Homo sapiens: one gene and its partner. The protein of the gene in region 1 purifies or fractionates together with the protein of each later gene. This does not show direct contact. Each region holds a gene or a part of one and is shown in the gene's direction. Other genes may lie near its edges.

What was found. Proteins that work in one complex are often made in the same cells at the same time.
Region 2: the proteins of MCEE (region 1) and DBT purify together in Homo sapiens (co-immunoprecipitation; 2 studies listed by BioGRID and IntAct, with this or other methods). This does not show direct contact.

Annotation. Positions count from the first base shown.
Region 1 is NC_000002.12:71,119,460-71,124,863, reverse strand, and holds part of MCEE (methylmalonyl-CoA epimerase, mitochondrial precursor), read left to right. Parts: intron 1-320; coding exon 321-658; intron 659-5,404. UniProt on the Homo sapiens protein: Methylmalonyl-CoA epimerase involved in propionyl-CoA metabolism.
Region 2 is NC_000001.11:100,242,922-100,246,907, reverse strand, and holds part of DBT (lipoamide acyltransferase component of branched-chain alpha-keto acid dehydrogenase complex, mitochondrial isoform 1 precursor), read left to right. Parts: intron 1-2,305; exon of another isoform or gene 2,306-2,365; intron 2,366-3,986. UniProt on the Homo sapiens protein: The branched-chain alpha-keto dehydrogenase complex catalyzes the overall conversion of alpha-keto acids to acyl-CoA and CO(2).

The DNA of each region.
Region 1 (5,404 bases):
TAGCAAGTAATGCTTAATATGCCACTATTTAAGTGTTACCAGTAAATATGAATTGTTATGAAAAAATGTTATCCTGTGTTTTAAATCTAACTGCAGCTCAGAATTAGCTTTTTTATTCCAGTCAGTTATTTGAATGGGCAGAGCAGAGTAATTCTGATGTAAGTTTTTCCATTTATCTCCTGGTTTCATTTCAATAATTAAAAAGAACAGATATATAAATAATGAATTTTTGCATGCATTATTTGTTTAGTTTTTAAAATTCAATTTAGAAGTGCGTTAATTCTCAAAAGAAGGATATCAATGGCTGTTCAATTTTTCAGGGCTTTTTTCCAGACTTCAAGCTCCCATTCCAACAGTAAGAGCTTCTTCCACATCACAGCCCTTGGATCAAGTGACAGGTTCTGTGTGGAACCTGGGTCGACTCAACCATGTAGCCATAGCAGTGCCAGATTTGGAAAAGGCTGCAGCATTTTATAAGAATATTCTGGGGGCCCAGGTAAGTGAAGCGGTCCCTCTTCCTGAACATGGAGTATCTGTTGTTTTTGTCAACCTGGGAAATACCAAGATGGAACTGCTTCATCCATTGGGACGTGACAGTCCAATTGCAGGTTTTCTGCAGAAAAACAAGGCTGGAGGAATGCATCACATCTGCATCGAGGTATTTTAATTATTTTAATGCCTGGTATTTTAAATCTCTCTTTTAAAAAATGTCTTCTACTTTTTAAGTCTATTTATGGTCACTGTCATTAGAAACTTTTGTAAAGTTCTTTAAGGAGAATGATAATATTCATCCTCCTCAAAGGTGGATCCTTACATACATTTCTTTTCCCTTTAGAAAATTCTAACATATAATATTAATGTATTTTTTTGAAGTCTGGATTCAGTGACCACTGTAAGTGCCACCAAAGTTAGCCACAATGTAGAGTCTGCTTTAGAATTGATCATGTTTGACCTCCCATGTAACAGGAATACAGCTGTTTTCACTGTCATAAGGCAATTAGGAGAAACAAATGAAAAGACTTTAAAGCTTTCAGTGTACATGCTAAGTATTCTTTATAACTCTTTTCTCTCTTTAAAATGCTAATAACTTCTTCGTTATTACAAAGTCAATACATTTTCAATTACTGTAATTTTTAAGATCTTCTGAATTGCACCTGCCAACAATTTTTAAAGGAATGTGAAGAAATGTTAGACAAGAAAAGTCCATTAGAGAACATTTCTATAGATGTTCATGTTCAGATAACTGCCTTTTAGAATATCAGCAATGACAATTATGCATCGATTTAATTTGCTAGGACAATTCTTTTTATAGAAAGAATGACATAATTGTTAAGCCAAATTTCTTTTTCTTTTCTTTTTTTTTTTTTTTTTGAGACGGAGTCTTACTCTGTCGCCCAGGCTGAAGTGCAGTGTGGCGTGATCTCGGCTCACTGCAACCTCTGCCTCCTGGGTTCAAGTGATTCTCCTGCCTCAGCCTACCAGGTAGCTGGGATTACAGGCATGCGCCACCATGCCCGGCTAATTGTGTATTTTTAGTAGAGATGAGGTTTCACCATGTTGGTCAGGCTGGTCTCAAACTCCTGACCTCAGGTGATTCACCTACGTCAGCCTCTCAAAGTGCTGGGATTATAGGCGTGAGCCACCTTGCCTGGCCTGTTAGGCCAAATTTCTAATACAGAGGAGAGGTCATTTGATTCTAGAGTGAATTCAAGGATGTATTCAGTTCATTATTGCAAACATGTATGAGACCCTATAATGTGTATTCTGCCAAGTACTTGGGATTTAGCAGTGAATAAGACATGAGTCATGTCCATAGTGAGGAGGGTCAGAAATTTAAACACCCAAGTGCAATATACTATGATAAGTAGAATTGATATATGTGACTTTGCAGTAGCACAGATGAAGGAGATTGATTGCTCCTGGCAGATTGAGTTGCTGGGAAGGCCTCACAGAGCATAAGTTACAATGAATGTGAAGGAATTCCCTAGGTGAACAAAAGGAGAAAGTTATTTCAGGCAGAGGGAATTGCATGTGGAAAGGCATAGAGTTATCATAACAGCTAACACTTAGTGGCTGGGTGTGGTGGCTTATGCCTCGACATGGCTTGGCTGTGTCCCCACCCAAATCTCATCTTGAATTCCCACATGTTGTGGGAGGGACCAGTGGGAGGTAATTGAATCATGGGGGCAGGTCTTTCCGTGCTGTTCTTGTGATAGTGAATAAGTTTCACAAGATCTGACAGTTTTATAAGGGGGATTTTCCCTGCCCAATCTGTCTCTCTTTGCCTGCTGCCATCCATGTAAGATGTGACTTGCTCCTCCTTGCCTTCTGCCATGAGTGTGAGGCCTCCCCAGCCACGTGGAACTGTAAATCATTAAACCTGTTTCTTTTGTAAATTGCCCAGTCTCGGGTATGTCTTTATCAATAGCGTGAAAATGGACTAATACACACCTGTAATCTTAGCACTTTGGGAGGCCAAGGTGGGCAGATTGCTCGAGCCCAGGAGTTTGAGACCAGCCTGGGCCAAATGGCAAAACCGTGTCTCTACTAAAAATACAAAAAGCTAGTCAGGTGTGGTGGTATGCACCTGTAGTCCCAGCTACTTGGGAGGCTGATGTGGGAGCATCACTTGAGCCCAGGAAGTGCTGAGGTGGAGGTTGTAGTGAGCCGTGATCACACCACTGCACTCTAGCCTGAATGAAAGAGCGAGACCCTGTCTCAAAAAAAAGAACTAACATTTAGTGAGTCCTCTAGTAGTATGTCTACAAAGTAACTCAACACATACTATTTTCTTGAATTTTCATAGCTACCCTGTGAGGGCCCTATTATCCCCATTTGACAGGAAAGGAAACTGAGACAGAGTAGTTAATTTGCCCATGGTCATATCAATAGCAGGTATGGGGCTGAATCCCAGATTGGTTCTGATTCCAGGGTCTGCACTCTTACCCATGATGCCAGTTGCCTTCATTATATTAACTGAGTTTTAAATTTGCGGTGGGGAAGCTATAAGACCTTAAGCAGGGAACTAAACAAGTCCTAATATTAGCCTTTATTTTATTTTTAGGGAGTTACTTTTGGCTGCAGGTCTTTGTCAGTGGACCTGAGTGTTTGTCTAAGCCCTACCCCACCCCCCAGGATGAGAAGCAGGACCTTTGAATCCACTCCCCCCTCTCCCACACTGCACTATCAGTATTCCATCAAGAGAGCCCATGCTTTCAAAGGAGTTCAGCTATGTGATTTAGTTCAGTTAAGTAAGGAATAGTGGAAGTTCAGTAATGGCAGATTCAAAAGCAGAGATTATAAGGGGGACATGCAAATGTATTGGATATAAAATGAAGGTAGGTAAGAGGAGAAGGTGTGAACAGTGGTTAGTTAGGTGCTATTTTAGTATAATACCCCCATCATCATTCTCTGCCCTCCACAAAAAAATTAAGTGGCTTAACAAGATTTTATTTTTCTGTTTTCAGTCTAATATTAGCTATCCCAGGCTGATGGGCAGCTCTGCTGTCCATGACACATGACTTACAAGGTTGCTCCAGGCATCACCATTTGCCAGCCAGAGGGAAGGGAAGGGAAGGTGGAGTGGGAATACCTGGCAAGTGGCTTTAAGGAGATGCTCTAGGATCACTTCTGTCCTTATCCCATTGGCCCAAGCTTAGTTACATGACACACTTCTCTGCAAGGGAGGCTGGGGAATGTAGTCTCTAGCTAGGCAGTTATGTGCCCTGCTGAAGCTTGGGGGTTGCTGTAATTAAAAGGAGGAAAAGGAGAAAGGTACTGGAGGCCATCAATGGATGCCACGCTTGGTGATTTTTAAAAAGTGGTGTGTCACCTGGGCATGGTGGCTCATGCTTATTACAGCACTTTGGGAGGCCGAGGTGGGCAGATTGCCTGAGCTCAGGAGTTTGAGACCAGCCTGGGCAACACGGTGAAACCCCATCTCTACTAAAATACAAAAATTAGCTGGACGTGGCGGCGCACACCTGTAATTCCAGCTACTTGGGAGGCTGAGGCAGGAGAATCGTTTGAACCTGGGAGGCAGAGGTTGCAGTGAGCCAAGATCATGCCACTTCACTCCAGCCTGGGCAACAGAGCAAGACTCCATCTCAGGAAAAAAAAAAAAAATGTTGAACCACTCATCAGAGAATTGGCTTTCCCCTCTGTAATCACAGGGCTACTTTCTGTCCTTTTTCACCAGGATCTTATAAAACCTCTGACTTAGCATATATCTGTTGGTGCATGCTCCATGGTTTTTGTTGACTCACTTGACGAAATGTTCCTTTCTCACATGTGGATTACGATCTCAATAGTTAATTAGCATTTTTCTGTCGAGGTTGAGTTGGTTTCTACTTTTTCTTGTGAGGTTTACTCATATTTCTTGTGTGTCTTTGCCTCTCACTAGAGGAATTTTAGAGGGCATCTTGTCCCATCTCTTCTCTTGCTCAAGTATGGACTGAATCACCCACTGTTTTCTGGCACAGCTTGTGTTTGTGCTCCTAACTGCTGCCTGCGATGGCAAGAGGGGGGTCACCTTCCCTGCCTTCTGCGTGCCTCTGCTTGAGGAGACAAAGCTGGCCGTGCTTTCTCTGGAGAACTTAGCCAGACAGCACAGTGTGTCACAGTGAAGACTTTAAGGGCCACCAGAAATACTTACTCAAATTTGTATTGAGTTTGTAAAAATATTTAAATGCTTCCGTGTTGGTTGGTAAACAGCTGCTGCTCTGTAACACCTGAGTAACATTCCTTTTCCAGAAGGACCCTTTTCTGGGACCCTTCAGACACCCTTCTCCCTCTACAATTTTTTTCCTTCAGAGAGAGGGTCTCACTGTGTCACCCATGCTGGAGTGCAGTGGCACAATCATTACGCACTGCAACCTGGAACTCCTGAGCTCAAGCGACCCTCCTACCTCAGCCTCCTGAGTAGCTACGGCTACAGGCAGCACACCATCATGCCCAGCTAATTTTTTTTTTTTTAAGAGACAAATTCTTGCTATATTGCCCAGGCTGGTCTCAAACTCTTGGCTCAAGCAATCCTTCTACCTCAGCCCTTCCAAAGCACTGGGATTACAGGCATGAACCACCATGCTCAGCCGCACAATTCTATCTGATTAGTATCTTTGTATTTTCCTGATTGTTAAGTATTTTTGGTATCACTCTGTCCTTCACTGTACAAGATGCTGGGGATATGTGGCTGAACAAGCAGAAAGTTCCTGTCTACCCAGAGCTTGCCTGCTTGCTTCATTTATTCACACATGCTCCTCATTTTCCAGAGAGGATTAAAGGTGACTGACTAAAACACAGCCTACAAAGTACAAAAGGATAAACAGAAGTAATAGTGCTAGTTGCAACAAAGAGGAAATATAAGGGATGATTAGCATACCTTACTAGTTTAGCCAAATACAGT
Region 2 (3,986 bases), on another chromosome or scaffold:
GGGTTACACCTACTCATCCGTCAGGTCTTACTTCAACATAACTTTCTCCAGCTAGGTTCCCTTAACACACTCTATTTCCTTCATTATAGCACGTGTTATAATCACCGGTTTACTTGTCTTTACCTTTCACTGTACTGTGCATTCTATAAGGGAAGAAATTGCATCTGTTTTGTTCTCTGTATAATCCCAAGTGCCTGGCACATTGTAGGTGTGCATAAATATTTTTTAAATGACTCAGTAAAAAAAAAAGTCAGGTTTGTAAACTCTTCTAAAAAGTTGTAAGCAAAAACAGTTCTTACCCCCGTAGTAAATTATTAAAATAGCCTTATAATGTTGTGTTTTACATTTCCCTAGGACATAATGCATTTGACTCTTGATTAATCATGCCATTTGGAATTTTTCTGTTGTGTCTGTCTTCCTGTAGTAAAGTGTAAGCAATTTGAATTCAGGAACTATATATTGCATCTTATTTAGCTTTGCATTTCCAAGTCCAGTACAATGTCTGACTTTAGGAGTGCTCAACAGCTGCCTATTGAATTATTATTAAATATTTCCTTAATACGCTACTTTGGTGAACAGTTTCATTTCCCTTTATGTTCTTCTGTCCTGGTTGTGATATTGAATTATTAATTTTTTATTTTTATTTTTTTTGAGACGGCGTCTCACTCTGTCACCAGGCTGGAGTGCAGTGGTGCAATCTCAGCTCACTGCAACCTCCGCCTCCCGGGTTCAAGCGATTCTCCTGCCTCAGCCTCCCAAGTAACTGGGCAGGCACGCGCCACCATGCCCAGCTAATTTTTGTATTTTTAATAGAGACGGGGTTTCGCTGTGTTGGCCAGGATGGTCTTGATCTCTTGACCTCGTGATCCACCTGCCTCAGTCTCCCAAAGTGCTGGGATTACAGGCATGAGCCACTGCACCTGGCCTAATTTTTTATTTTATTTATTATTATTTTTGAGACAAGTTCTTGCTCTGTTGCCCAGGCTGGAGTGTGGTGGCATGATCTTGGCTCACTGCAGTCTTGACCTCCTGGGCTCAAGTGGTCCTCCTTCCTCAGCCTCCCAAGTAGCTGGGACTACAGGCATTCACCACCACAGCCAACTAATTATTTTGATTTTTAGTAGACAAAGTCTCAATGCATTGCCCAGTATGGTCTTGAACTCCTGGGCTCCAGTGATCCTTCTGCTTTGGACTCCCAAAATGTTGGGATTACAGGCATGAGTCACTGCACCTGGCTGAATTATTTTTAAAATCAAGGAAAGACCTATTTTAGTCAAATAATTGCATTAAGACTTAGACTACACGTATAGTTGTTCAACCAGGATGTATTTGAGAATGAAAATGGTGTTATTAATAATTGCCTTGAATCACTAGAGGTGAATTGGGTGTCACCTCAGGCAAATTGGTACAGATGGTCCCCATAGAACTAGGTGTCTTTAGTATTGTTCATAGATGAATTTAGAATTGCTTCAAATATAAAATATATAAAACTGATAATTCCATAAGCATGCCTTTTTAAAATTGGAGGTTTAAAGCCTTATGCTTAATTTACTAGTCTAGCTGGGTGTGGTGGCTCACACCTGTAATCCTAGCATTCTGGGAGACTGAGACAGGAGGATTGCTTCAGCCCAGGAGTTTAAGACCATCCTGGGCAAAAAAGTGAGACCCTGTCTTTATTTTATTATTATTATTATTATTTGAGATGGGATTACAGGTGTGAGCCACTGCACCCAGCCAACCCTGTCTTTGAAGAAAATTAAAAAATATAATTTACTAGTCTAATAGTCTGTTTCTAGAAAAAAAATTTAGAATTCTAGCTTGAAAAATTATTTCTTCTCCTCTTTCCTGTTGCCTGTTAATCCATCTATTCAGCAACTTCACAGTGTTTTTAGCCTTCTCCTCAGAGCCATTCAATTACTATTATATTAATCATATACTGCCTATGGTACTTTTGTTGCTTTTTTTCTTTTTCTACTATTAATTACCTCAGTCAGGAGCCTGTTGCTTTGTGTCTCAAATACTATACAGTACTCTCCCCTTCTTATCTGTGGTCTCAGTTAGCCATGATCTACTGTAGTCTGAAAATAGGTGAGCACAGTACAGTAAGATATTTTGAGAGAGAGACCACATTCACAAAACCTTTATTACAGTATATTATTATAATTTTTCTATTTTATTATCAGTTATTATTATTACTGTCTTACTGTGTCTGATTTATAAATTAAACTTTATCATAGGTATGTATATATAGGAAAAACACGGTATATGTAGAATATGTAGGATTCAGTACTGTCCATGGTTTTAGGCACCCACCGGGGGATCTTGAACGTGTCCACTGCACATAAGGAGATAAGAGAGGAATACGGTAATAGTTATTTTTTTAAAAAAATCCTTTTTTGATAATTTTGGTATGTAATAGTTTCTTGACTTCTCCCTTTCTCTCCAGATTTTATCTGTTATAATCTATTCAATAAACCACTACTAATTTCCTAATCCTTTTTCTTCAATAACCCATAATGTATGAGTTCAAACTCCTTATACTGACATTATAGTCATCAACCATTTCCTCCTTGAGCTGTTTCCATTGCTCTCTTTTATACCTTTGGTCAAGCCAAATCAAGCCGCTCAATGTCCCAGCAGATATGCTAAGTCAATTTCTGCTGTAGTTTATTTATGCTGTTTCCTCTGCCTTAAAAGTGCCCTTCTGCTCTTTTATTATGTATGCTTATTATGCACAGTGCAGCTTAAATCTTCCTCCAAGAAGCCTTCCCAGGTCACACTAACGTGAAAAAAAAGCCCACCAGACCCCTCTACTTAAACTCCTTTTTTTTTTTTTTTTTTTTTGAGATAGAATTTTGCTCTTGTTGCCTAGGCTGGAGTGCAATGAGATTACAGCTATGAACCACTGTGCCCGGCCTGCTTAAACTCCTTTATCACGTACTGCCTATGTCTCTTTTTTTTTTTTTTCGTAAACCTATGGACTATATTAAAGAAGCCTATGCCTCTTATTACAAAAAGTTAGAGCATGCATGTCCATGCTTGAGTGTGTTTGTATGTGTGTTTATTTTCTCACATACGTTGTAAACTCTTTGAAATTAGGGATTATTTCTCCTATTTCTAGGGTCTTTGACATCAAATTTATTTAGCTTCAGAGCTCGATTGTTCCACTTATTTGCTGTGTGACCTTGGACAAATTACTTCACCTTTCCCATCAGTTTCCCGTGTGTTGAAGAGGGCTAACGTGTATGTTCCACAGGGAAATTGTAAATGTAAAGATGATGTCTGGGCCGGGCACCATGGCTCATGGCCTGTAATCCTAGTACTTTGAGAGGCCAAGGTGGGCGGATTGCCTGAGCTGAGGAGGTCGAGAGCACCCTGGGCAACATAATGAAACCCCGTCTCTACTAAAATACACACAAAAAAAGTTTAGCTGGACATGATGGCACATGCCTGTAGTCCCAGCTACTTGGGAGGCTGAGGCACGAGAATCGCATGAACCTGGGAGGCGGAGGTTGCAGTAAGCTGAGATCGTGCCACTGCACTCCAGCCTGGGTGACAGAGTGAAACTCCATCTCAAAAAAAAAAGAAAAAAAGATGATGTCTAAAAAGGCTATTTTTCTTTTTTTCTTTCTTTTTTTTTTTTTTTTGGAGACAAGGTCTCTCTGTCACCTAGGCTGAAGTGCAGTGGTGTGATCTTGGCTCATTGCAACCTCCGCCTCCCAGGTTCAAGTGATTCTTGTGCCTCAGCCTCCCAAGTAGCTGGGACTACGTGTGCCACCATGTCCAGCTGATTTTTGTATTTTTAGTAGAGAGGGGGTCTCGTCATGTTGACCAGGCTGGTCTCAAACTCTTGACCTCAAGCAATCCACTCACCTCAGCCTCCCAAAGTGATGGGATTACAGGCCAGAGCCACCATGCCTGGCCTGTCTGAAAAGAAAGTACTCAGCACATGGGAGGCACTCAATAAATGTTAAGCGTGGTGGTTT